3 separate regions of the Homo sapiens genome follow, and all the other regions are linked to region 3. Evidence: fine-mapped expression QTL. A gene starts in region 3. Each other region holds a variant in brackets. All regions are shown on one strand. Distances are from middle to middle. Region 1 has its middle 33 kb from the start of PPM1A. Region 2 overlaps PPM1A (protein phosphatase, Mg2+/Mn2+ dependent 1A). Region 3 holds the start of PPM1A (protein phosphatase, Mg2+/Mn2+ dependent 1A).

What was found. PIP is the estimated chance that this variant, and not a neighbour inherited with it, causes the effect.
Region 1: its variant is fine-mapped to the expression of PPM1A in whole blood (INTERVAL, PIP above 0.99).
Region 2: its variant is fine-mapped to the expression of PPM1A in sun-exposed skin (GTEx, PIP 0.97). The same link has a PIP of 0.9 or more in lung, spleen and tibial nerve.

The regions. Positions count from the first base shown.
Region 1 is chr14:60,212,229-60,220,414 of GRCh38, reverse strand. It overlaps the pseudogene RPL17P2. Among named protein-coding and RNA genes, the nearest start is that of PPM1A, 33 kb to the left of the region's middle. RefSeq lists enhancers at 27-266, 7,302-7,381. The variant G/T (reference allele first, on the strand shown) is at 3,703.
Region 2 is chr14:60,274,897-60,283,082 of GRCh38, reverse strand. It overlaps PPM1A (protein phosphatase, Mg2+/Mn2+ dependent 1A), which reads right to left. Exons shown (of 6, transcript NM_021003.5): 2 at 1-399. The coding sequence starts at 379. Among named protein-coding and RNA genes, the nearest start is that of PPM1A, 30 kb to the right of the region's middle. RefSeq lists an enhancer at 1-802. The variant A/G (reference allele first, on the strand shown) is at 4,471.
Region 3 is chr14:60,244,457-60,252,642 of GRCh38, reverse strand. It overlaps PPM1A (protein phosphatase, Mg2+/Mn2+ dependent 1A), which reads right to left and starts at 3,422. Exons shown (of 6, transcript NM_021003.5): 1 at 2,966-3,422. It overlaps LOC101927702 (a long non-coding RNA gene), which reads left to right and starts at 7,007. Exons shown (of 3, transcript NR_188027.1): 1 at 7,007-7,098. RefSeq lists silencers at 2,439-3,178, 3,379-3,478 and enhancers at 3,579-3,928, 3,989-4,038, 3,348-4,076, 4,619-4,868.

The DNA.
Region 1 (8,186 bases), 32 kb after region 3:
CAATGTTGTACATGTTGCACTGCAAGGAAAAGGCAAAGAGAAACTAAATCCCATGAGCCTTGTCTCTAGAGACCCACATAACCTGTCACTTAGGTAATGGGAGTGGAAAGTTACCTTGGTAAGCAGAAAGAGAAACTTGGTAAGCAGCCAGAGAAACTTTTGGGGGCTTCCCAGGGTTGTTTTGTCATAGTGTGGCAAAAGGTGCTGGGGTGGTAACTTCTAAACAGGCCAGCCCTATCTTGGATCTAGGTTTAGCAACATAAAGTACAAGTTCCACGATATTTAATATTTCATCAAGTGTTTGATGAGTACCTTCCAAATACTCAGAATGCTGTGTAAGTTTGCATCAGGACTGATCCCTTCCCTCAAGGAGCTCTCAATCTCCTAGGGAAATAACATAATTTTATATAAAATGGCAATGTGTAAATACATTCCAAGATGAAGAGCATGGAAAAAGAATGTAGTAATAGAAGTCAGTATATTTTCCTTATAATTGTATTGCTTACATTTTATGCTTTAAATAACTTATTGTACAAAACACATTATAGGACAAAACACATTATAGGGCAAAACACTTTCTTGACCTGTAAGCTGAATGTCTTATGTACCCACAAACTAAATAGTGGTTAAAGTTTCTTTCTGCTTTAAAATGTGCCCATTTTAGTACAAGTACTTGCAGATACCAATTAAGGTGTGTGTGGAGGTACACGAGGGAAGTCTCCTCACTCACTCTTCACTGTTTGTCACTGTTTGACAGCCCCTGAGTCTGAAGGTGTACAATCTCTCTAATCCTTCAGCCAACCTTTCTGTGGCCATTCTCCCTGTTTCATCTCAAGTCACTTAGGAGATACCTGGGGGTGACAATTGGAGGAATAAATTAAAGTGTGGTCATTTGGAGAAGTCAGACAAATCCAGAAGGTCTAAGCTATTTGGAGATTTTCCTAATAAACTTTCCTAAGTGGGACATTTCCCACTTTAGCCAAACTTCTATTTAAGCGTACAGTTTGAATCAGGTTATGTTTCTGTCCCTGCTATCCACAGAACTTGGTCACATTAGTGTCAGCCCTGGAGAGTTCTGCCCCAACTCCAGGTCATTCTTGGTCCATAGTCCGGTGGTGGGCAGTCTTGGCTTGTCACAGTTAAAACTGGGGCTTTTAACTCTACAAGTTCAGGCCCTGTCCCTCAGAAATTCTAATTTAGGGATCTGGAGTTTGTCCTATGAAATCCACATGTGTCAAGGTTGAAATGAACAGATACCCATTTAATGTAAAGGGAAAACCTTAAACAATTATAACTGAGTAACAATGTAATCACCTTTCTGTGAACTCATTGTTACTGGAAGTTTTCTAGCAGAGGCTACACTTTTGAACTATCAGTCCTCTTTCTCCATCATAAAACATAACTATACCCTAAGCACCCTTTCTACATTATCTCATTAATCTGCACAAATTTCCTGTAGGGAGAATGTCATTACTATTCTCATTTTACAAATGAGAAAAGTGAGATGCAGAGTGTAAATGATTTGCCTAAGATCAAACAGCCAAGAAAAGATGAAGAAAGGACTACCGCGAAGGTAATTCCTGATCTACTACCCTATGTGTCCTCAATCCTGTAGATATGCCCTGGCCCAAGGAGATGGCAGAGAGCCTAGGCCACTTGTCAGTTTATTCGAGGACCCTTAGATTTGATTGAAGATCAGGGTGGGAAGGGGTGGGGTGGCCAGAGCCAGAGATTACACTGCTGCAGGTTTTCCCGCTAGTCCCACCTGCTTATGTACCTTGAGCCCTTGAGTTCTGCTGGGCAATCTATATAGAAATAACTGCTATTATTTACTGAGAGTTTACCATGTGCCCAGCACTGTGTGAACTGCTTTACTTATAAGAGCTTATTTAGTTGCTGCAACAACCCCATGAAGAGGGAATTAGATCTTCATCTTGTAGATGTGGAAACTGAGGCTGAAAGTCTTGCCAGGGTCATACAGCAAGGCCATGAATCAAATTCAGGTATATGTGTGCTCAAAAGCCTGTGCCCTACAAAGGGATTGTTTTGGAGACAGTGATGTTCTGAAGGGCAGGGAGGACCTACCGAGAGTAGTTGTCCCCCTCGGAGTCTCTCAGTGTAGGCCAGTGAATATCCACTTGGTTAGACTGAGAGTGTACCCTGGGAGCTATTTCATCCCCCCAGATGACAGTTCACTGGGACATAGCGACCCCGAACCGTTATCAGATGTAAGAGACTCCAGGATTTCTGAAATGCAGACACAAGTTATAGTAAGTTTTGTGTGGAGATGGAAAGAATTGTGTGTGTGTGTGTGTGTGTGTGTGTGTGTGTGTGTGTTTTGTGTGTGTGTGTGCATGCCTGTATGTATGACATGTACATACACACATGTAAGTGTATGGTATAGAGAATGTCAGGAGAATGGGGTTCTAGCCCTGTCTGCCACTCTATATTCAAGAAAGTCCAGAGAGGAAGTAGGGCAGATCCAGGGCTTTTTGAGGACACGCTTTCACTCTGCACATGAAACAGGATGCCAGACTCTAAGAGCTTCTAAAAGGCCTTGAAACCAACTCCCCGGCTTCCAACCTCCAGCTCAAGTACTCTTTGGCAGCTGTGAATTTCTCAGGCCTCACTGGTATCACCAACCCATCTCCCTGGGGGTCCCGGAACTTCTCAGGAGTCTGGGGTCTGGGGTGCTGGCACAGAGGCCCATGGGGGCCACAGGCTTGTGCTCCTGGGATATCTAAAATCCACTACCACATCTCAGGACTCAGAGCCCCAGGAAACCAGGACTTCCAAAGGCTGCTTTGGCTTTCCCTGCTGTGCTTAGGACAACAGGCTAGTTCAAAGCATGAAAAGGAAAATTGTGTCCACACTTGGTACTCAGAATGGCTACCTTTTGGTCCACTGCTATACTTTCTGACACGAAACATTACACTTGCATTTGTCATTTCCCTGCTACACCCTCCACCAGAGTCTGGAATCTCACAGAAGCGCCAGCTTTGGGGAGGGAGTCAGTAATGTCAGACAGCAGTCTTCAGCAGCTTGTTAGTTTGGCACATGGCTTTGGACTCAGACGGACTTGGATTTAAATTCTGACTCTGCCCCCAAGGAGCTTGATGGTCTTGGCAGGCCACGTGCTTCTCTGACCTTTGTTTCCTCCTCTGAAAAACAAAGGCACTAATGCCTGTCTGTGTGGTGACCTGACACAGCCCCTACCTGGGACCTGGCAAGTGCCCAACACACAGAGGTGCTGCGATTTCAGCTGCACTGAGAAAGGACCCTTGGGCCAAAAGAAATCTTTCCCCGACAATTTTCTGACATGATCTGGCTTTTATGCACCTCTTTAGCCTCAAACAGGAATGGTACCCGCACTCTGCTTCCTTGAATACCACCATGATCTTTGTCACTGCTGTTCCCTCTTCCTAGAACGCTGTTCCCTTCAGGCCTCCACTCTGTTCATCCAGTTAGCACCAGCTTCCAGGTCTCCTCAGTTACCTTGAAGAGAACCTTTAAGGGCTCCCCTGGCTCAGCTTTGTTCTCACTTGTGCGATTATTTTAAAGATGTTTGTTAATTAATTAAACAACAAACCATGGATGAGACAAACATTAAACAATGTAAACTCCATGAAGGTGCCTGTTTTACTCACCAGTGCCTGGTACATACTAGGTCTCAGTAGCTATTTGTTGAAAGAAGGAATGGAT[G/T]AGAAATGCAATCATTTAACTGAAAGGAGTACAGTTGTCACAATGCTAGTGCTCCCCAAAATATTAGTAGTTATTCTGAAGTCAAAAAGAGGTACATGGTCAAATTGGACACTTCGGGCAAAACAAAATTAGACAGGTTTCTTCTCAGTAGAACTTCTCAACATCTTAATATGCTAATGTGCATTATGAATTTCTAGTGGGAGGAGGCTTAACACCAAACAAGGAACCTCCTTTGTCATTTACACCTCACTGTGAATGAGTTTAATCAAAGCTTAGCCAGAGAGTAAGTGACGGGGAAGTAGAAGTTCCAGGCTCTGAAGGCGAGGAACTCTGCCTGTCTTCAGCCTGCCCCCAAATGCAGAGCCCCTGGGCTTCTGGGAGCAAAATCCACTTGAATACATGAGCAGCTGGCCTGTTCATAACTCACCCCTACAACTGAATCTTGGCACAGCAATCTAAACCTGGACCTAAATCTAAATGGCAATCTAAAGTTGTCATTACTGCTATTTTTACCAAAAGACCTCTTTCTTACATCAGCCATGGAGGGATTTCATCTAAAAAAAAATTTGCTGTTTATCTTCTTCAATAAAAAGTGACTTTGACAATGTGGTGTAAGGTTGATGTGTCCCAAGAAACAGACCTGTTCCCTGTCTGGATTTGTTTTCTTTTATTGCTTTTTAAATCCAGCATTCCTCTTTTCATTTCTGGCTTAAGCTACAGGGCAGTACTGGTTTTGCTCAAGAGGAGTCTCTATTTGGAGTTGATTGAAAAAACAAAACTGGCTAAAAGAAGGATCAGGACAGTCCTAAATATAATTAAAATAGAAATAAAAGGGCGACACATAAACCAGATGGGTATCCAAACCTGGATGGTTTCTGTGTTCCAAACATTGACTCTGAGTAGCTGTATTTGAATGCAAGAATGGAGCAATGCCTGATGCCTCACAATGGATGGAGAATGTGAATGAGGTTGGATAGAACAGAGCTGAAATGTTGACTGCTGTGATTCATGGTGCTTCCAAGATGGCGCCATCATAACAGAGTTAGTATTTACAGGCAGGGCAAACTGCAAAGCAGGGAGAGTTTATCTCTAGTTCTTCTTTCTTCAGTTTCAGCAGGGAAACTCAGATTGCCCTCTCACTAAAGGTGCCGTTGTTGCCTCTTGGTTTTCTTTGGCCTAGCATGTCAATTATTTTCATCTCACTCATTCAAGATCCTGATCCTGGTTTTAAAACTAATCCAATAAACCAATTCACTAGCTAATGGATGATAGTTTAAAAATGTGACTTCCTCCTTTTACCTAAGATATTTGTATTTTAACAAGGGTCATCTGGTTGATATCAAACAAGTCACTCTAATGGTGAAAAGTCAGGCAGTAGGGAGATGCTTCTGCGTAGATTGCCCTGCAGTTCCTTTCAAGATCTACACAGAGGCAGCTGTCTGCTCTGGCTGGGTAGGATTGGCTCTGTTACAGATCTTTGCTGTGCAGTAAAGGTAGGTTAAAGGGCAGCACCGAATGGCACAAGAATAGAAAACAGCACATGGAGATGGTATTTTGTCCATGGATTGGGGATTACTATCCTAAGCAGCCAGGATTTTTCCAGTAGAGTTTTATACAATAAAATAAATGTGTTCTGCACTTTTAGTGTTTAAATAAACATGGAGGATTTATTTCTAGCTGTAATGTAAATTGGTGATGTAGAAAGTTATGAAAAGAGAATGCATCCAAAAACTTAAGACCTCCTGGTTTCTGTCACTGCTCTGTGTGCTTAAACAACACTGATTTCTACATAAATAACTCACCCCTTAGAAAATATATGTAAGATAATTTACTCTAAGAATTTTCCCCTTAAAAAAGTACGTTTACTGTGAGCAAAAGTTTATGGAAACTAGCATGAGTAAACCAAGAGCAAAGTGCAATATATGTATGTATAAATATATAATGTATTCTCTGAATCTTCTAATTTTCTATATTTGTGTTTGAAATTATAATCAAAGGCCATGACCCAAGATATCCATTCCTAAAATATACCCTGAATTAGTGGCTTTCCAACCTTCTTCTACTTTGACCTGCAGTAATAAATCCATTTTACCTTGTGATCCAATACACACACACCCTGAAATAAAAATGTCATAAAACAAAGCTAATGCTTGTTACATGCAATAGCTCTAGTATTTTTATTCTATCTTCTTCAATTTCTTTTTTCCTTCTTGTTTTCTTAAAAATTGATATTACTAGTTCACCAGCAAATTGGGACCCACAGTTTGAAAAGCACTGCCCCAGAAACTCACACATACATAAAATGTTTATAGCAGCACTGTTCGAAATAGCAAATAAGTAGGGAAATGTGTATGGCTAATGATAAACATTGTGTATCAAAATGGAGCATGACTTGGATTGGGAGGTTAGAAAAGGACTTTTGAGGAAATGACACTTACATTTAGACTAGAGGGTAAAGCCTGGTAAAGAGTATTGGACACTGAGCAGGCTTTGAGTAAGCAAAACCTTGGCACCCTCCAGGAACTGAAGAAGGCTAACGTGGTAGGGCCATAGCCAAGGAGAGAGACATGTCATAAGATTGGGATAGTAGGGATAAATTGTGCAATGTTTTGTAGGCAATATTGAGGATGGAGGATTTTTATTTATCTAAGTGCAGTGGGTAGTCATCGAGGGGTTTTAAGCTGGGAAATAACACAATCAAATTTATCTTTTTAACCATTGCCCTGGTTCCTATGTGAAGAATGGATTAGAAAAAGGATCAAGGGGCCAGGCACAGTGGCTTCTGCCTGTAATCCCAGCACTTTGGGAGGCTGAGGTGGGAGGATCACTTGAGCCTGGGTGTTCAAGACCAGCCTGGTCAACATAGTGAGACCCTGTCTCTCCAAAAAAATTAAAATATTACCTGGGTGTGGTGGCATGCACCTGTAGTCCCCTCTACTCCAGACGCTGAGGCAGGAGGATTGTTTGAGTCCAGAAGTTTGAGGTTACGGTGATTTATGATCATGCCACTATATTCCAACCTGGTTGACAGAGCAAGACCCTGTCAAAAAAAAAAGAAAGAAAGAAAGAAAAAGCATGGAGGAAAACCAGTTAAGAAGCTATTGTAAAAGTCTGATGGCTTGGATTGTGGTGACAGTGGAAACAAAGATAAGTGGATTACAGGGAATATTTTAGAGAGATACATCTATGAGACTCAGTGATGGCTTAGTTAGGATTGAAGGTAGGGTTGAAGGAGGGAGGTGAGGTTGAAGGTAAGGGCTATATCAAGGATGACACACCCAGTATTCATGCTAGAGCATCTAAGTAGGTGAAGATCTTATTTATTGATGTAGAAGACCAAAGGAAAGCACATTTGAGCAGGCAAGGATTAAGAATTTGGTTTTGTAAATCTTAAATCTGAGATGTCTCTGAGACCTCCAAATAGAGAATTCAAGTTATCAATTAGCTACGCAAACCTGGAGCTCTGCAAGGAGACTAGATTAGAGATATATATTTGAATCAGCAGCCTATGTAAATGTGATCATCCTGGAATGACAAAACAGAGCACGAGGAACAGATTGAGCTCAGGACAGAGCCCTGAGGAGCCCCAACATTCAGAAGTGGCTTGAGAAGAAGGGATCAGGACAGGAGTCTGAGGCCACAGGGGTGGTAGGAAACTTAGAGTGCATGGTCTCATAGGGGCCAAAGGAAGAGAGTGATTTGATAATTGGTTAGTAGTTGACAGTGTCAAGTACTGCTAAGAAGTTAAAGATGATGAGACTGCTCTTCCCCTAAGTGACCTGAGGTGATCTGTGAAAATAGTTCACTATTCACTTGACCCAGAAAATCCCACAAAATTATGCAAATCAAGAGGTTCAAATCTTTGTGTTCACTTTCAGAACACTCATGAAACTGCCCAGGCCATCAGGGGTATGCATATACAAAAAGCCCCAAGTATCTGAAAGACGTCACTTTACAGAAGCAGGGTGTACCATTCCGACATTTCAGGGGGGGAGTTGTTGGGTGTGCCCAGGCCAAGCAGTGGGGCTGATGGGGTTGGTGGCCCAAAAAGCTTGCTGAATTTTTGCTGCACATGCTTAAAAGTGCAGAGGGTAATGCTGAGCTTAAGGGTTTAGATGTAGATTCTCTGGTCATTGAGCATATCTAGGTGAACAAAGCACATAAAATGCATTACTGGACTTACAGAACACGTAGTCAGATTAACTCATACATGAGCTCTCCCTGCCACATCGAGATGATCCTTACTGAAACAAATTGTTCAAGAAGAAAAATAATGAGTGAAGTGTCCAATTATTAAAGAAGAACCTGTTTATTTTTTAAATGAATAACAGTAGGTATTAAATCACTACAGTATTTGTGTTCTACTAGCTACATTTGAAAGAGTGGTACAAGAGTTTTATTATTTAATAGTAATTTCAATTTTATCAGTAATTACCTTTTTATTAACCATTCAAACTTCTGATAAAAGTGGTTAGATGTTGATT
Region 2 (8,186 bases), 30 kb before region 3:
ACCCACTTCTATCTGCACCATGTTTCTTCTCTGACATAACTCTCATGTGTTCATCAATCTCCAGAAAACCTGTTCTGATTCCATTCTTTACATTTTCCACAGAAGGTGCTCCTGCAGACCCTTTAAAATCCTGGTTATTGGTGATGTGATCTAACAAATGCTCACAGCAGTATTTGGCAACCTGAGAACCAGCATGCCCATCATACACAGCAAAGAATGACCACGATTCAAGTCCACTTGGCAAACCGATCACAGCCGTATGTGCATCCTCCATTTCAACACGCCAGCCTTGCATGCTGCTTAGCCCATATCGCAACCCATTACCCTGCCCCTGGGCATTATGCTTTTCCATCTTTGGCTTGTCTAAAAATGCTCCCATTATGTCTTGATCCTCTAGGTCTGCAAAGGAAGAGAAACAGGAAAGTCAATAACTGTCTTATAAACAAAATATGTACCAAACAATCTTTTTAATAAGTGAAAGAGATATGCGGGAATTCACAACTCGCGATAAGCAGACATTCATTGTGTTGCTGACTTGGAATCTGGAGATTAACAAGGAGGAACTGGGGGAAAGCCTGATGAAGCACAGATCACAACAGACAAAAAGGCAGAAAAAAACTAAAGCATTGGGATAAAGGGGAGAAGGCAGAAAGGAGACCTGGCAGTGGCCATCAACTTAAACCAACCAGGCTAAATGTTTAATGATACAATGAACATGTGTAAGCTCAGGACTAAGTTGTATGTATATCAATTAAGAAAAGCCAAACGAATTCATGACATACCCAAAAAATCTACTAACTCAAATATATCTTGGTTGAACATTCAGGAATTTTCAAGCTTGATTCCAAACTCCCTAGTTTTATTCCCACTGCATGAACTCTGAAAAACTAAAAAATAATCTACTCACAATGCTCCAAATTTGCATGCTCCTTCAAGCCTTTGCTCATGTCAGTTTCCTTAACTGGAAACTCTTGCCTCATCCTATTTATAGAAAAAAGTATACCTATCCTTTTAAGTCTACCTTACATTCTACCTTTTCCATGAGGTTTTTCAGTTTTTGATAAAGTCAGTTAAGTTATTAAATTACTGTAAATGTTGTAGCCTCAAATTTCAAGTTGCAAGCAATTATATATATACATAACGAAGTGTACTGTATACATATATAACAAAATTACTACTAGTAATCTATTAATCATATAGTAATAACATGTACCATTATTATTATACTCTATGACCATTAGGTATATAAAGAAGATCAAAGGGTCTAGTGACAGCCCTGCTGACAAGCCTGAAGGCTCAGCTAATCTAATCCTTTTCCAATACTCAAAAGTTAACACCCGCTGGTCTAGAATGGGCCCACACAAGGCAAAGAGACAGCTGGTTAGAATTTACCTTGGCCCTTACTTGAACAATAGCTTAGAAATGTAGACACCTGGGTTCAAGTAATCAAGTAAGTCACAACTGAACTAAAGGCAATCCAAAAGAAGGATAGCATGATGAACAGAGATTTAATGGAGGTGAAGAGGAGTTAGGTAGTAGGGAATAATGGTGGAGAAAAGTATCTAGGTAAATCACTACGCAGCTCTGAAACTAGGGTATTGATGATGCTAATGATACTCAGCTCAGAGAGGAAACTGGGAGAAAAAGGGCAAGAAGAAAATCCTCCTAGGAAGGAAAGAAAAACATTTGTTTTCCCCTTCATTTTCCTTATAGGTCCAAACTGATACATAGGCAGAAAAGACTGGCTGATTGGCGTGATAAAACCATCTGCCTACTCCTCTGCCTCCTAGTACAGTTCAACTAACGAAAGGTAAGTAATGAAAACTAGCTATCATCCATCCCTTATGGTGATATTTATCAGATTATTTTTCTGACATCAAGTTGATACACACTGCAAAGGTGAGTATTTTGATTGGATAAAGGATAACGTAATAATGACACCTTATTAGCAGGCAATGTTTAAGAAGTATTCTAAGTCCCTCTGGTAAGTGTTTTACAAGCATTACTTCATTTAATCTCTTCAACAACTCTCTAAGGTAGATAATAATATTATCTCCAATTTATAGATGAAGAACCTTAGCCAAGATTAAAGAACTTGGCCAAGATCACTCAACTAATAAGTTTAAAGGAATCAGGGCTCTGATTCAAGTCTGCGTGACTCTAAAGCATCATTAACCCCTAAGAAAATGGGTCTCTACCATGGCTGTGCAACAGAATTATCTGTGGACTTTTTGAAAAATAAATATTTCCAAATCAGAATTTCCAGGGTAGGGTTGGAACCTAGGTATCTATGATTTTTAAATTTTCATATGTGATTCTGAGGCACAGTAAGGTTGCAAACTGCTGGAAAAGATTAGATGGAATGCCTAAGGCAGAAGATGGGGGCACATTAAGGGCCAACAAGAAATAATCAACCAAAATTGCAGTAACCAAGACCACTATCCTAGGTTACAAGACCACTATCCTAGACTAGAAACAACAAGGTGAAGTTTTACAGAGGAAAGACTCCACTACCTTGAGAAAAGGAAAGAAAAAAAGAGACGTGAGTGAAACTCAAAAAATTAAACACATTTAAGAGACAAACCAACAGAAAAGAATAGTAATGACAAACTTCCTTCCTCTACGAATTCACCAATAGCATGAAGTACTAAAGAAAATAAGTTATGAAATTAGACCAATGTGGGTTTAAATTCTGGCTCTACTACTTAGTAATAGTGTGACTACTGAACCTTTCCGAATCTCTTTCTCCATCTGTTCCTGTATAAGCATATAAGAAGGCAGCCAGGTGTGGTGGCTCACGCCTGTAATCCCAGCACTTTAGGAGGCCGAGGTGGGTGGATCATGAGGTCAGGAGTTCTAGACCAGCCTGGCCAATATGGTGAAACCCCGTCTCTACTAAAAATACAAAAATTAGCCAGGCATGGTGGCGCATGCCCGTAATCCCGGCTACTTGGGAGGCTGAGGCAGAAGAATGGCTTGAACCTGGAGGCAGAGGTTGCACTGAGCCAAGCTGAGATCACATCACTGCACTCCAGCCTGGGCGATAGAGCGAGACTCCGTCTCAAAAAAAAAAGTATATAAGAAGGCACTAACCTTACAAGATTCTTATGACGATTAAATAAAATAATGTATACAGTGCACAAAGTATAGTGTCTAGCAAATTATAAATACTCAATATAATATAGATATTATTATATAATTTTTACACCATTTTTTCTGCCAGAGGAGGCAGTCAATCACAATAATATTTCCTCCTTGCCGCCAGCTCTGATTACCATTAAATTAAACTTCTATGTGATATATTTTAAAAGACACTTTAAACACTTCATTAGTAAATAGGGGAAGGCACATTTAAAACAAATGCCATTTCTCATCCATCTGGCAATATCAAGAGTTGGTCAGAATGTGGAGAAACAGGAACTCCCCTAGAGTGCCGATAGGAGTTTAAATTGGTTCAACCACTCTGAATTGCAACTGGCAACAGCTAGTTGAAGAAGTTGAAGATACACTTAAGCAACTACTCAGCAATTCCACTTCTAATTATAGATCTCAAAACAACGTTTTAAAAATAATGAACACGGGTGATAAATCAGTTTAATCAGTATGGGTTACACACAACCCAATCAGCTGGGTTGTGTGTAAACTGCATTTGAAAAAGATAAAATAGGCCGAGCGCAGTGGCTCACGCCTGTAATCTCAGCACTTTGGGAGGCTGAGGTGGGTGGATTAATTGAGGTCAGGAGTTCGAGACCAGACTGGCCAACATGGTGAAACCCTGTCTCTATTAATACAAAAAATTAGCCGGGTGTGGTGGCTGGCGCCTGTAATCCCAACTACTCAGGAGGCTGAGGCAGGAGAATTGTTTGAACCTGGGAGGTGGAGGTTGCAGTGAGCCAAGATCATGCCATTGCACTCTAGCCCGGGCAGCAAGAGCGAAACAACGTCTCAAGAAAACAAAACAGAACAAAATAGAGTGCATCCCAGGTGATAAAAGTAAGTAAATACTGTTTCTTGAAGTTTTTGTCCCAAGTGTATATTTGTATTTACTAAGCTGAGGTGCACATAATTCTTACTGTGGTCACAACAAAAAGTCTGAAACATGCTGTCTTGAAGAAACTCTCCCATCCATCCATCCAAGGTGACATATTCAATGATCTTTTTGGAGAACCATAATAGTCAATGTTGGAAATAACCTAACTGCTCATTAGAAGGTAGGAAGGATAAATAACAGAATACAATTTATCAAAAACAGATCTAATTACATAAACAGATATTCCTAAAAAACAAAAGAAGACAATATGCTGAACAAGGCTGCAAAACAATTCTATACACATATTTGCTAAAAGTATAAAAACAAGGACAGGCAGAATACAGACAAACTTTAGAATAGTGGCTGTAAACTCCATGAGAGCAGGGACTTTTTGTTTTATTCACTGGTGTCTTCCCAGCACTTGGAGCACAGCCTAACAC[A/G]CAGAAGAAGTTCAATCTTTGTCGAATGACTAGTTTCTCTCTGGGAAGACAAAGAAAAGAGGATGGCTTCAGGAAAGGGTCTAACAATGGGATACAACTGTATCTGCAGGTGGTGTTTCCTGGACTTTGAAGCAGAAAGAGGGAATTTAGGAACATAATCTCTGCTTTAGTTTTTCTAAATTATCTCGGCTTTTAGCTTTCCTTTGGTTCATCTAAGGTAAGCTGAATTCCTTCAAAAGTTACCTGTACTAAGAAGTCAAAAAAAAAAAAAAAGAAACTGGGAGCCAAAGAAAAGCAAACCGCAAACCATGAAATCTTTTAAAAGCACATAGGATTATCTTAAAACTTAACTAAGATTCACTTCTATCTTAGACAGATTAGGAGCCTGGCTTTCCTCCTTATTCTTTCCTATAGCCTACATTTTTATCTCTGAACAACTACATGAGATAACAGGTAGTCACAGGCTTAATAATAACATCTAACATTTATGGAGAGATTACTACTAGCCAAGCACTGTTCTAAAGTTTTGTATATGTATTAACTTCTTTAATCTTCACACCAATCCTAAAAGATAGGTACCCTGTTTTACTCATGAAGAAACTAAGCCACGGTGAGGTTAAGTCATCTGCTGAAGGTCAATAGCAAATTGCCTTATCTCTGTGTCTCAATTCCCTTAACTAGGATGAGGGAGCAAGGTTGAGGAGGGAGGTATTATGCTTAAGACACTTCACACCTACTAATAAAGCATTCCTCAACTTCCTCATCTGTACAGTGGGCATATTAATACTTTCCTCTGAATGCTGCTGCAAGGTTTAAATGAGGCAATGCCTTGCAAGGCACCCATACAGAGCCTGGCAAAAATGAGGCAGTCAGCAAACAGGCACTGTTTAATTACTAACTCCTACATAAACAGCCACGTCTAGATTCCAGCCTCAACTAGCAGGGACCTCACTCTCACTTTTATAAAGAAGTACAGTAGTTATTTTCCAGATACACACATGAAACTACCAAATAATTCTTTGAAGATAGAATATACTTTCTAAAAACAAACCCCAGACTTTAAAAAATATATACAGTATATTATTATAGTATATAAATTAGTATATAAAAATGTAACAAACCAAGTAACCATCTAACAAAATTTTAGGTTCAGCTCCACAGCAACTGTAAAAATATAGTCAAGGGTAAATTAATAGTTTTGTGGCTGGACTTTTACATACTGAAAACAGGCAATATAAAAATCTTACCTCCTTGGGTTCTGAGCAATTTGTAGAGTCCTGGTGAAGCAGCCAACTATAAGCTACATGGATACAAGAGCTGATTATATAAATATAATACCAAAAAGTACTTACTTGCAAATACTATGTTTACACAGTCATCTTCCATAAGTGGACTAATAAAGAGTATTTTATTTAGTCCAATAATTAAATTGGCGTATATCCATAAATAGTAAATCCCAAGGGGATTCAATTTGTCCATGAAAGTTTTTAGTTAGTTTCTGAGAGAAATTTTAGTTCTCACCTAGTCATAAATCTGTTCTTGAGTACAAGCTGAGTCTCATCACAGCACTAGTATTATCAGTTGATCTGAACTTTTCAAAACAAAGTACTATGACAAAAAACAAGACTGAATTAATATTTGATATAATCAGAAAATTTCATGAACATTTTGTACCTTTTAAAAACCAAACTAATCCCTAAACTGAAAAATTCTAAGGCTGGGCCAAGAAGTCATTAATTAATGTTCAGTCTTGCCTTTTATTAAGCAAAGGTGAACTCATAGTAGAGTCTTGAACCCGGTCATTTGGTTTAATCCACTCAGAATTATAGTGAATAATTTTTAAAATGCTCTATATATTTTATTGTTAAAATCCCTATGCAACATGTTAGCCCCAAAGTAACAAGAGTTATTCAACTGACAATTTGAGCAGAAACCTTAAAAAGTTGAGTAATAAAACCCTACATATTTTTCTATTTACGTAGGGACACTTAACCTAATAGGGAACGCCCCCCAGGCTTTATAAACAAAGGACATAGATACATACAATGTGGAGAAAATTATATTCTCTTAGCAAATACCAGAGTTATTCTTACTCATATAACAAAAGAACATTGCTAAACAGGCATTCCAAGAAGGGTGGATACTGGTAACTAGAGGACCTTTGATGACCACTGAGATAATAGGTTTGGTTTTAAACATTTGGGAGAAAAATCTAGAGTAGACTTGCATTAGAGATAAGAAATCTAAAGGCTGAAGGGAAATCCAAAGAGAAAAAAATATATAGTGAGAGACTACAAGCTCCTCGGGGAAGGTGGGGAAAAGGAACGTTAACAAACAGCACAGGTCACAGTGGATAATATGGCAATATTCAAATTACTTGCAGTGGGATGTAGAGCGTAAACTCTCTACTGCTACCAAATCTTTATATTCTACATTGCTCACTAATGCTTACATATGTACGGGCTTTGTCCTCAAAGATAAGGACAAATGGTCAGCTGACTTCTGGAATGCATATTTATGGAACAATAGAGTATTAAGCAATATACTGCATACCTGGGGTTCAAAGAAGAAATGCTAACCCTTGCAGCTACATCTCTATAAAGGATAATTTAGGCTACACAAACTACACTTAATTTCCCAAGCTATGTGAAATAGTAATAAATTCTAGTTTGTAATCCAAGGCAGCCATCTCAAAGTTATCTATGGTAATGAGAAATAAGCACATTAACAAAACTGTAGCAAATCTGTAAAAAAAAAAAAAAAAAAAAGGCTAATCTTTGGAAATTTTTCTCCCATTTGGAGCTGAAATTTCCCACTGATTGTTGCTTTAAAAATGATTAGAGCCACACATGGTGGCACATGCCTGTAATCCCAGTGCTTTGGGAGACTGAGGTGGGAGGACCACTTGAGGGCAGTTCAAGACCAGCCTGGGCAAAATAGCGTGACTCTGTAAAAATGATTAGCGGGGCATAGTGGTGCATGCCTGTAGTCCTAGCTACTCAGGAGGCTGAGGAAGGAGGACTGCTTGGGCCCACGAATTTGAAGCTGCAGTGACCTATAATGGTGCCACTGCACTCCAGCCTGGGCAATAGAGTAAGACTCTGTCTCTAAAAAAATAAAAATAATAAAATATTACTCATTTATAGTTACAAATTTGATTTTGATAACTTGCATAATGAATCAGAGCCAAAATGCAGAAATGATTTGTGTAAACCTATTTTACAAATGAGAAGGTGCAGAGAAACAGAATAACTTGCCCAAGGTTACAAAGCTGGTTCATCAGTAAGGCTAAGAATAAGACTTAGGTTTCTGGACTTACACTCCAATTCTCCTACATGTGCTATCCTGTATCCTTGCAAATGAGGTAATGAAAATCTAAATGTGTAGGCTTTTTAAAGACAACATACAAGATAAGGAAGACTGTCACAGAACAAAACTAAAACTTCCCTCAGTGCCATATCTTCTTCTGCCTACAAGTCTATATATTTTCTTTTCTAAATCTCTAAAACTGCCAAAGATAAATGACCTTAAAAAAAAAAAAAAGGAAGAAGAGAAAAGAAAGAAATCTAAAATTTTTCTTTTTTGTCTGGGACTGAAAGAAAACAACAGTGAACTAATTGTAATTTCTAGCAAAGCCAATTTCAGATACTTAGGCTAAATAAAGTGTAAAAATGAACAGAGAAAAATAAGATGACTTTTTTTTTAATTCAGAAGTT
Region 3 (8,186 bases):
AACTTAATTTTAAAATTTGTTATTTGAGATGGAAGACAGGACATATTGTGACATAAAATTACTTAGAGGAAGACACAACTTTTACCCAGTTGCCTCACTATACCTTCTCCTCTTCTCCAAGGTTTATATATTTCACAGGGCCATGTGTTGTTTTATCTTCTTGCTTAACTCTTATAAAACCCTGCCGTGGCCAATTTTCTTACATGGCCATCTCTTTCTCCTGATTTGATTAAGGATGGAAAGTATTCAAGAGTATACTGACTCAGAGTCAGGTGCCCAGGCAAGAGTTAGATAATCATTTGAGAGGATCATCAAAATATCACCTTGTTATATTATTTCTACATGAGCATAGATTTACATCTTAAAAAATTAATCCAGCTCTCATGGGTGAGTATTTCAGAGATAACAAGTTCCTTGTGGACATATGCCACTTCTTGGTTAAAAATTACAAATATGCACGCACAGTTAAACCAAAATCAGCTGTACATTCTATTAGCTATTAGAGTAAACAAATGGCCTAGATGTAATCTGAACAAACTAAAAGACTATAGGTATTTAGTGACTGCTCAGCAATATTTACCACATGACAAAATGATGTTGCTATAGATTTCTTTCAAAAACAAATGAGGTATTAGAGAATTTTCAAAGGTTTAACAAGACCCAGCTTGAAGTGACAGAAAAAACCTTCATAATGTGTTTTTATAATGTCCTTCACATCAGACTACCAAGGGTCCTGTGCTTGTTCAAACCTGTAGTCTCAACCACCCTTTGTCTCCCATGAAATCTCCATCCTCCTTCCTCTCAAGAGTTTCCCTACACATCCCAATCCCAAAAGAAAAATCAATAGCTTACAAGAACACAAGAACAGCTTTTCTAAAGAACCATCACCAACTTAGAATTTGTTAAATAAAACAGAACCGAGAAAGAAATCCAGCCTTAGAACACTGAAACATCTAAGTGCCTGACACATAACAGGCATTTATTTGGCAACGGTATGTTGACTAGACACACAATATTGATAAAAAAAAATTTTTAAATGTAGTAACTGGACAGTACATGTGATAATATAATCTGCCCAACTGGCTTTACTGATTTGGAAGCTGAAACTCAAAAGGTTAAAGGACTTGTCCATGGACACAGATATTTTGGAGCACAGCCATGACTAAACAATCCTTGTCTCCTACTGCACTGTTCCCTTCAACAGGTCATATACCTCAGCCCCTCATGTAAAAAGATACAATATGTACACAAAATACATAAAAAGATACAAGCCAAATAAAAAGCAATTTGATGACTATTATTTCTCAAATATAATTGAGGTAGTTAACTTCAAACATTATCAGTCTTAATACACCTTTCCCATAATATAATTACTTCACCGATCTAAAAATGTTTTATGATATCAAATTAAAATGTCTTAGGCAACTGCCATGTGCAGGAAGTTCATTATAGTTTCAATAATGTGGTACTGCTGTAAACTTCCAGGTTAAAAGTAATCATCCTTACATGACTGAAAGTTTAATCAGATACATATAAGTTACACATAACAAGAACAAAACTATAACACTAGGAAATGTTACTTTGTGCTTCAAATTATTTATTGGTAAAGAAAGCATTAAGTCAGTAAAAGCAGCATCTAAGAATAGAGAATCTCCTTATTTTCAATTTTCTCATTTGTAAAATAAGGAGTTACAGAAATACAATCTTTGGAAAAGGCCCAATATGTAGCAAGATAAAAGTATAAAAGTAAAGTGTTTCAAAGAGAGTTGGGGACCAAGCTATGCTAAATTCCCAAGTGCTCTGGAACCCTAAGTCTCAGCAGAGTAGTGTTTCAACAAATCCCTCCACTTTTCGGAGCGCAACACATGTAAAGTGGTTGTGTTTAAAACCCCAACGTGCAAGTTTGAAAAGACTGTTTTACAAAACAATTGTTAAAATGTCTAATTTCTCTCAATAATGTCAAAATCATTTCCTTTGAGAAAATGATACCTATCTCTCATACTCTTCCAACCACTTCTTAAAACACATTCAGCTCATTATTCCAATGAGCAGGAAACTTGCGGGGAGGTGGGGCTAGCACACAGATCCCATGGCTTGGACAACTGAAGCATGACTTTTGTGGATTTGTACCATGTGGTGTTTCAGGAGAGAAGAAAAATACCTCAGGTGATGAAATTTTCAAAACGTATCTAAAACTGCAGTTGGTAGAAGGCTCTCCACAGCCAGCTGTCTTTCAAGAAAAGGCTCCAAGTTTATTTAAAATCTACAAGCAGAACAGAACCATACCTCAACCAAGCTCTAACATCAAGAAGTTTTACCCGATTTACGTAGTTAAAAGGATAAGAAATCGGAATTTACTTCAATGGATTTGTTCGATGCCTTAATAATGAATGAACTAGAGGCATCACTCACTGACTTGAGTTCTGAAGGAGTCTCTCAGCCCTGCCCCCTGTAAAACCTTAAGCAATTTCTACAGAATTAGGTTTTTCGAGGCTAAGCCCGGTTCAAAGGAAGTCTCCCCGCCTCCCTCCCAGGGGCTGAAGCCCAGGACAGCCGGGGCGGCGCGCCCGAGCGGGTGGGGGCGCGGGGACGCCCCCTCCCCGCTCGGGAAAAGTTCTGCAGGCCGCTCTCCGGCCAGGCCGGCCTGCGGCCGTCGCCTGCTTCGCCGCCACAAACACCCATCTCGGCCGCGGACGGCCAGAGGGTCGCGCCCCCTCCCCGCGCCACCGCAACTAACACCCCGCCCCCGCCTCCCCGCCACCGCCCTCGCCGAGCGTTAACCCCTCGCCGTCCGCCGCCCGGCTCGGGGGAGGAGGCCGGCCAGGGGGTGGAGTTGTCGCGTCTCCTCCCGGGAGCGCCCGGGCAGACGCCCGGCTTGTTTACAGGCCCCAGGCCTGCCCGCCGCCGCCGCCGCGCAGGCCCGCACCGCCCGCCAGCCCGCCGTCGGCCCGAGCGCCGCACTTACCCGGAGCAGCCGCAGGCGGGCAGGTCCCTGGTCGGCCGAGGCGGCGGCGGCGGCAGCCGGGGAGGGGGTCACCGCGGCGGCGACGGCGGCAGCCGGGGGAGGGGTCACCGCTGCAGCGGCGGGCCAGGTCAGGCTGGGGAAGGGGCGGAGGAGGGGAGGAGCCGGGCTGCGTCCGGGCCCCCGGCTGTCGGCGCCCTCGCGGCTCAGATCATCCGGGCGTTGGAGAGGGAGGCAGAGAGCGGGTCCCGGAGAAGGAGGAGGAAGAGCCGAGGACTCATCGCTTTCGCGCCTCAGCTGTCTAGAGTCCCCCCACCCCCCCCTCCCCAACCACCCGTTCCGGAGCAACAGCCGCCTGAGGACCCGAAGCTGCGGGCCGGACGAGCGCCGAGACCACTGCTCTCTAGCTCCCGCGCGCGCTCCCGTCCCTAGCGCCGCCACCGCCGCCGCCGCCGCCTCTAGCGCGGCCCCGCGCAGGCGCGCTCACGACCGCGTCGCCCCTCCCCCACCCCTCCGCTCGCCCCGCCCCGCTGGCTCCGCCGCCGCTACAGCTGCGGCGCGGCGCGCAGCTACAGAGACCCGGATGTCGTTGGGCAGGAACTGCGGTGAGGGCTGGCGGGCGGGGGAGGGGCCGCCACAGATGACGTCACTGCCTTACCCAGCTTCTTTCTCTGCCGCTGCTGCTGCCGCCGCCTTTGCCTTACGGCCTGGAGCACCAGGCCGAAGCCGAAGGGAGCGTCCGGATCCCGGATAGCAGCCAGGACCCGGGCCTTCACGTTCCGGCGCCAGGGACTGGACAGAATGTGCGGCTATTAGGTGCCCAGTAGATCGACAGCCCCTCCGTGCCGGCCCTTGGCCAAGTAGGGACTCGGAAGCTACCCCTACGGCGTCCGCGCCCGGAGCCCTGGCTCTTCTACCTGCCTGCAGATACAAACCCCACTCCCTGCGAAGATGGTGTACACGCAGCCCCGAGCACAGACCCGAAGCTGTCCACCCTTCTTGGGCGCCGTCGCGGTCTGGCCGCTGCCCTTCGAACCCATGGTGGGTCCCAGGCAGCTGCCAGACCCCCCTACCCCAGAGTCCCACTCCTCCAGAGCCTTCCTCTCCCAGTGACCCCAGGAAGCCCAAGCAGGTGCCACGGCCACACACCTCGCGACCCAAAGGGCAGAGACACAAGCACGCTACCACCGCCCACCAATGTGCGAGTGCAACTGATTCACGCACGGGGCACATGCTCTGAGTTTCTGGCAGGTTTTCCCTCTATAGTTCAGGGGATTCCACATTGTATTTATTTGCACATGTTAGATAATCACGTGGTTCTGTCCCAGGGGACCTCCAACGACCTCCAATGAGGTAGGTTAAGGGAACAGGATTTTTCAAAATCAGGAGAATAATCAGAAACATAACAGCTGCTTCTATTAAGAGGTAGAGATGAGCTAAAGTTAATAGAAACTGCACGTGCCAGCGGCCAAAATCCAGTTTAGCTAGCTGGAAAACCCGACCCACGCTGCTTGCAGACGCCGGGGATAGAATGACAAACCCTAGGCAGCCAATGAATCGCAGCCTAGGAGCAGTACATCACCAGCACGGGTTCCCATTGGCTGGGGTGCCCTTCCCTCTCTTGTCAGCGGCTTAACCAGTTCACGAATTTGACCTACACCACATTCGCAGGAAAAGAAGTTAGAAGAAAAGTCCGTATTTTTAAAAGATGTTCTGATGCACACACAAACCAAAGACTTCATTGTAGAAGGCAGGTTCTTTTACTGGCCAAATTGAGTTCTGGCCAGTAAAAAAGGTAAATTTATGTTGAAGGCCTCTCTATTTTACTTGAGGAGCTCACTATAGCAATTTGCACCCTACTACTTTCTATCTCCTAAACCATTTTGTTGCCCCAACTCTTAGATCAAAAGCAACCTATTTATTCTTTCTGGCATTCAGCAAATATTTAGCTGCTGCTTTTAAAGTTGTAAAAAGCCATCTCTAATTTTCTCAACATGACTTTGGGGAAGGTTCTGTTTCCTTCACTTTTTTTTTTTTTTTTTTTTTTTTTTTTGAGACAGAGTCTCGCTCTTTCATCCAGGCTAGTACAGTGGCACAATCTCGGCTCACTGCAAGCTCCGCCTCCCGGGTTCATGCCATTCTCCTGCCTCAGCCTCCCGAGTAGCTGGGACTACAGGCGCCTGCCACCACGCCTGGCTAATTTTTTTGTATTTTTAGTTCAGACAGGGTTTCACCGTGTTGGCCAGGATGGTCTCGGTTTCCTGACCTCGTGATCCACCCTCCTCGGCCTCCCAAAGTGCTGGGATTACAGTCGTGAGCCACTGTTCCCGGCCAGAATTCCTTAGAAGATGATCGTGGATCATTTCCACATATACAAAATAAAAATAAAATTCACTATGCATTTGGTCTCAGTATCATCTGAGGATACATTTCCTAATTCTCCACATATCTCCCCGACCCCCCAAAAAAAGAAATTAGATCAGAGATCTTTGAAACGCTACCTTCTTGGAATCCTTAATACTCCAGGCAAGTAACAGCATGAGTAGCATGCTGGTGGACTCATTAACATTCTGAACTACAAAAGCTCATATGGCAACCATTTAGAGTGCTCTTAAAAGACAAATTTTCTTATTTATAAGCAGAAGCTGGGTCACTAGTGACGGTAGTGGACCATAGAAAACTTGAAATGCCTGCCTATCTTTCTGCTTCCTTCCTTTAGGCTTCCACACCTTTCTTCTCTCTGTTCTGCACTTGGAGAATCTGGGTCAATTGTAGAAGAAGAGGGAGAGAAATAGAAAATATGAACAGAAAGAAATTTTTAAGGAGTCTACGCATTGTACAGACTGCCGATAAAGCAGCACCTTCCTACTATTTATTTCTGAATACAGCTTGCAGGGACATTTTGGTATGAACTAGGAAACTCATGGGTTATAAGATTAATATTTTAAAAAGATATCAATATTGTCTGATTAAATATGTTTAATATCATCATATCCCCTTTTATTAAACCTTATGCTAAGAAGGGGGGACAGATAGAAGGGGAAAATAACATTGAAAAAAGAGGATTGAAAGTTCTCTTCTGAACTGTAAGACTTTGCCGGGCCTCTACACATATTTGGGATGTTCACAGTAAGATTTTAGTGGGAATATATTGCCATGATGATGACATTTTAGTAATTTTTATAGGTATATTATAAAACTATCCTGCTCTGCTTTGGAAATCTGTTTATATTTCAATTAACAAAGAAAAAGATTATCTACAAGATTGGCTTTAAAGTCCTGAATTTAGTGTGTGTTGATAGCCTAGTAATTGGGAGGCTTGGGGTGAGGACAGGGGCTGTAGTGTGGAGTCTAAAGCTTAATCTGATCAGCAATACTCTCTTTCCCTTTCCACCACAATTGTGACTTAAAAAAAGGTTTACATTCCTGCTCCCAAATTACTCTCCAGGAGAGTCACCCTTGAGGCAGACTTGCCTGGGCCTCTCAAAATATATGCAGTAATGTAAATGACCCCCTCAGGAGGCTAGTATTTGAGAATACCCCTCACCATCCTTTTCCACTGAAGCCAGTCACTACTCAAGAGTTAGAAAGCCAACCAGAACATAGGTTCAACAATTCCTTCCTCCCTCACTACCTGTTTCATATTTTTTTCTCTCACACATCCTCTTCATTTGGTTTCCTCTTTTCTCATTTCTCCTTCTCTCTCCTCCCTTTTTCTTCTCTTCTCTTTTTGCCTTCTTTGCCCTTCTCTTCCCCATTCTTCTTTTCTCTCTTTTCATTAGCTTAGTACAAATTGTAGCTTCTGCTACCCATTTTCTCCCAGAACAGAACATGCGAGCAGACAGTGCCCCTAAATGAATTTCATTCAGGGAGAGGGTGTGCCCCCTACCCTGGCCCTCCTTCCTCCCTCCCCTACATCATAATACATTATGAGAAACTTAGCTGCTTAGAGGACTGTTACAGAATCAAAAGGATTAGAGAATCCTGTCCTGTGTGACATCACTGGGCAGCCCCATTAGGGAGGGGCAGAGGGGAGCAGCCAGCAGTCTTATGCTACCACTGTGGCTCATCCTGCGACCTGAGAGAAACCTGGGCAACTGTGAGCACCAGAGGCCAAGTCCTGGACAGTCTTTAGGGTAGGCTTTCACCTCAAGATAGCCATATATGGCCACAGCCTTACAATACTAGAGTGGATCTTGTCAGATAAGTTCATCTGTTCATGAGATAGCTATTGTGCACCAAGCACTGTGTGGGACACTGGAGGTAGATAATGACATCAATGGGCAAGCCCTGCCCACAAAGAGCCAACATAATAATAAGAGGCATAGACAAATAAGTCAGCAGATAGAAAGGAAATTGCATACTGTTATCCATGCTGTGAAGAAAATAAATAAGGAAACAGATCCGGGAGACGACTTGAAACAGGTGTTCAGTGCAGACCTCTCTAAGAAGGCAGCATTTGATCTAAAGGATGAGAAGGAGTCAGCTTCATAATCAGGGGAGAACTTTCCAGGTAGAGGGGTCAGCATGGGCAAAGGGCCTGATGTGGAAAAGAGCTTGGCAGAAAAGAGTTTCTTACAGCCCAAAGACAAGTTCAGCAAACTCAAGGCAAATAGTTTATGGTCATTTAAGTTTCGAGAGTGTTTCAACGTGGACATTAGGGATATTTAATTTATAATCAGGAAACTACATTATGTGCACGGGTATAATCCATAGAAAATAACTTGGTGAGTTGGTCTGGTGCAAAAAGCAAAGCAACTTTTTTAAAAATTGAAATTAAAAATAGTCTGGGTGCAGTGGCTCACACCTGTAATCCCAGCACTTTGGAAGGCCAAAGCGAGTGGATCACTTGAGGCCAGGAGTTCAAGACCAGCCTGGCCAACATGGGGAAACCCCGTCTCTACTGAAAATACAAAATTAGCCACACCTGGTGGCACACGCCTGTAATCCCAGCTACTTGGGAAGCTGAGGCAGGAGAATCGCAGGCAGGAGAATCACTGGAACTCAGGAGGTGGAGGTTGCAGTGGGCCGAGATCATGCCCCTGCACCCTAGCCTGCATGACAGAAAAAAAAACACCTTTATTCAACTATTGAAATTGAGAAGTATTCCATAACTCCAGGAAAGACCCGTCAGACAATCCAGCAGCAGCTAGAAAAGAGTGAATTATAAGCTTCAAATAAATAGTTTTCATCCCAATATAGGTACCTATTTGTGCTAAGTAAA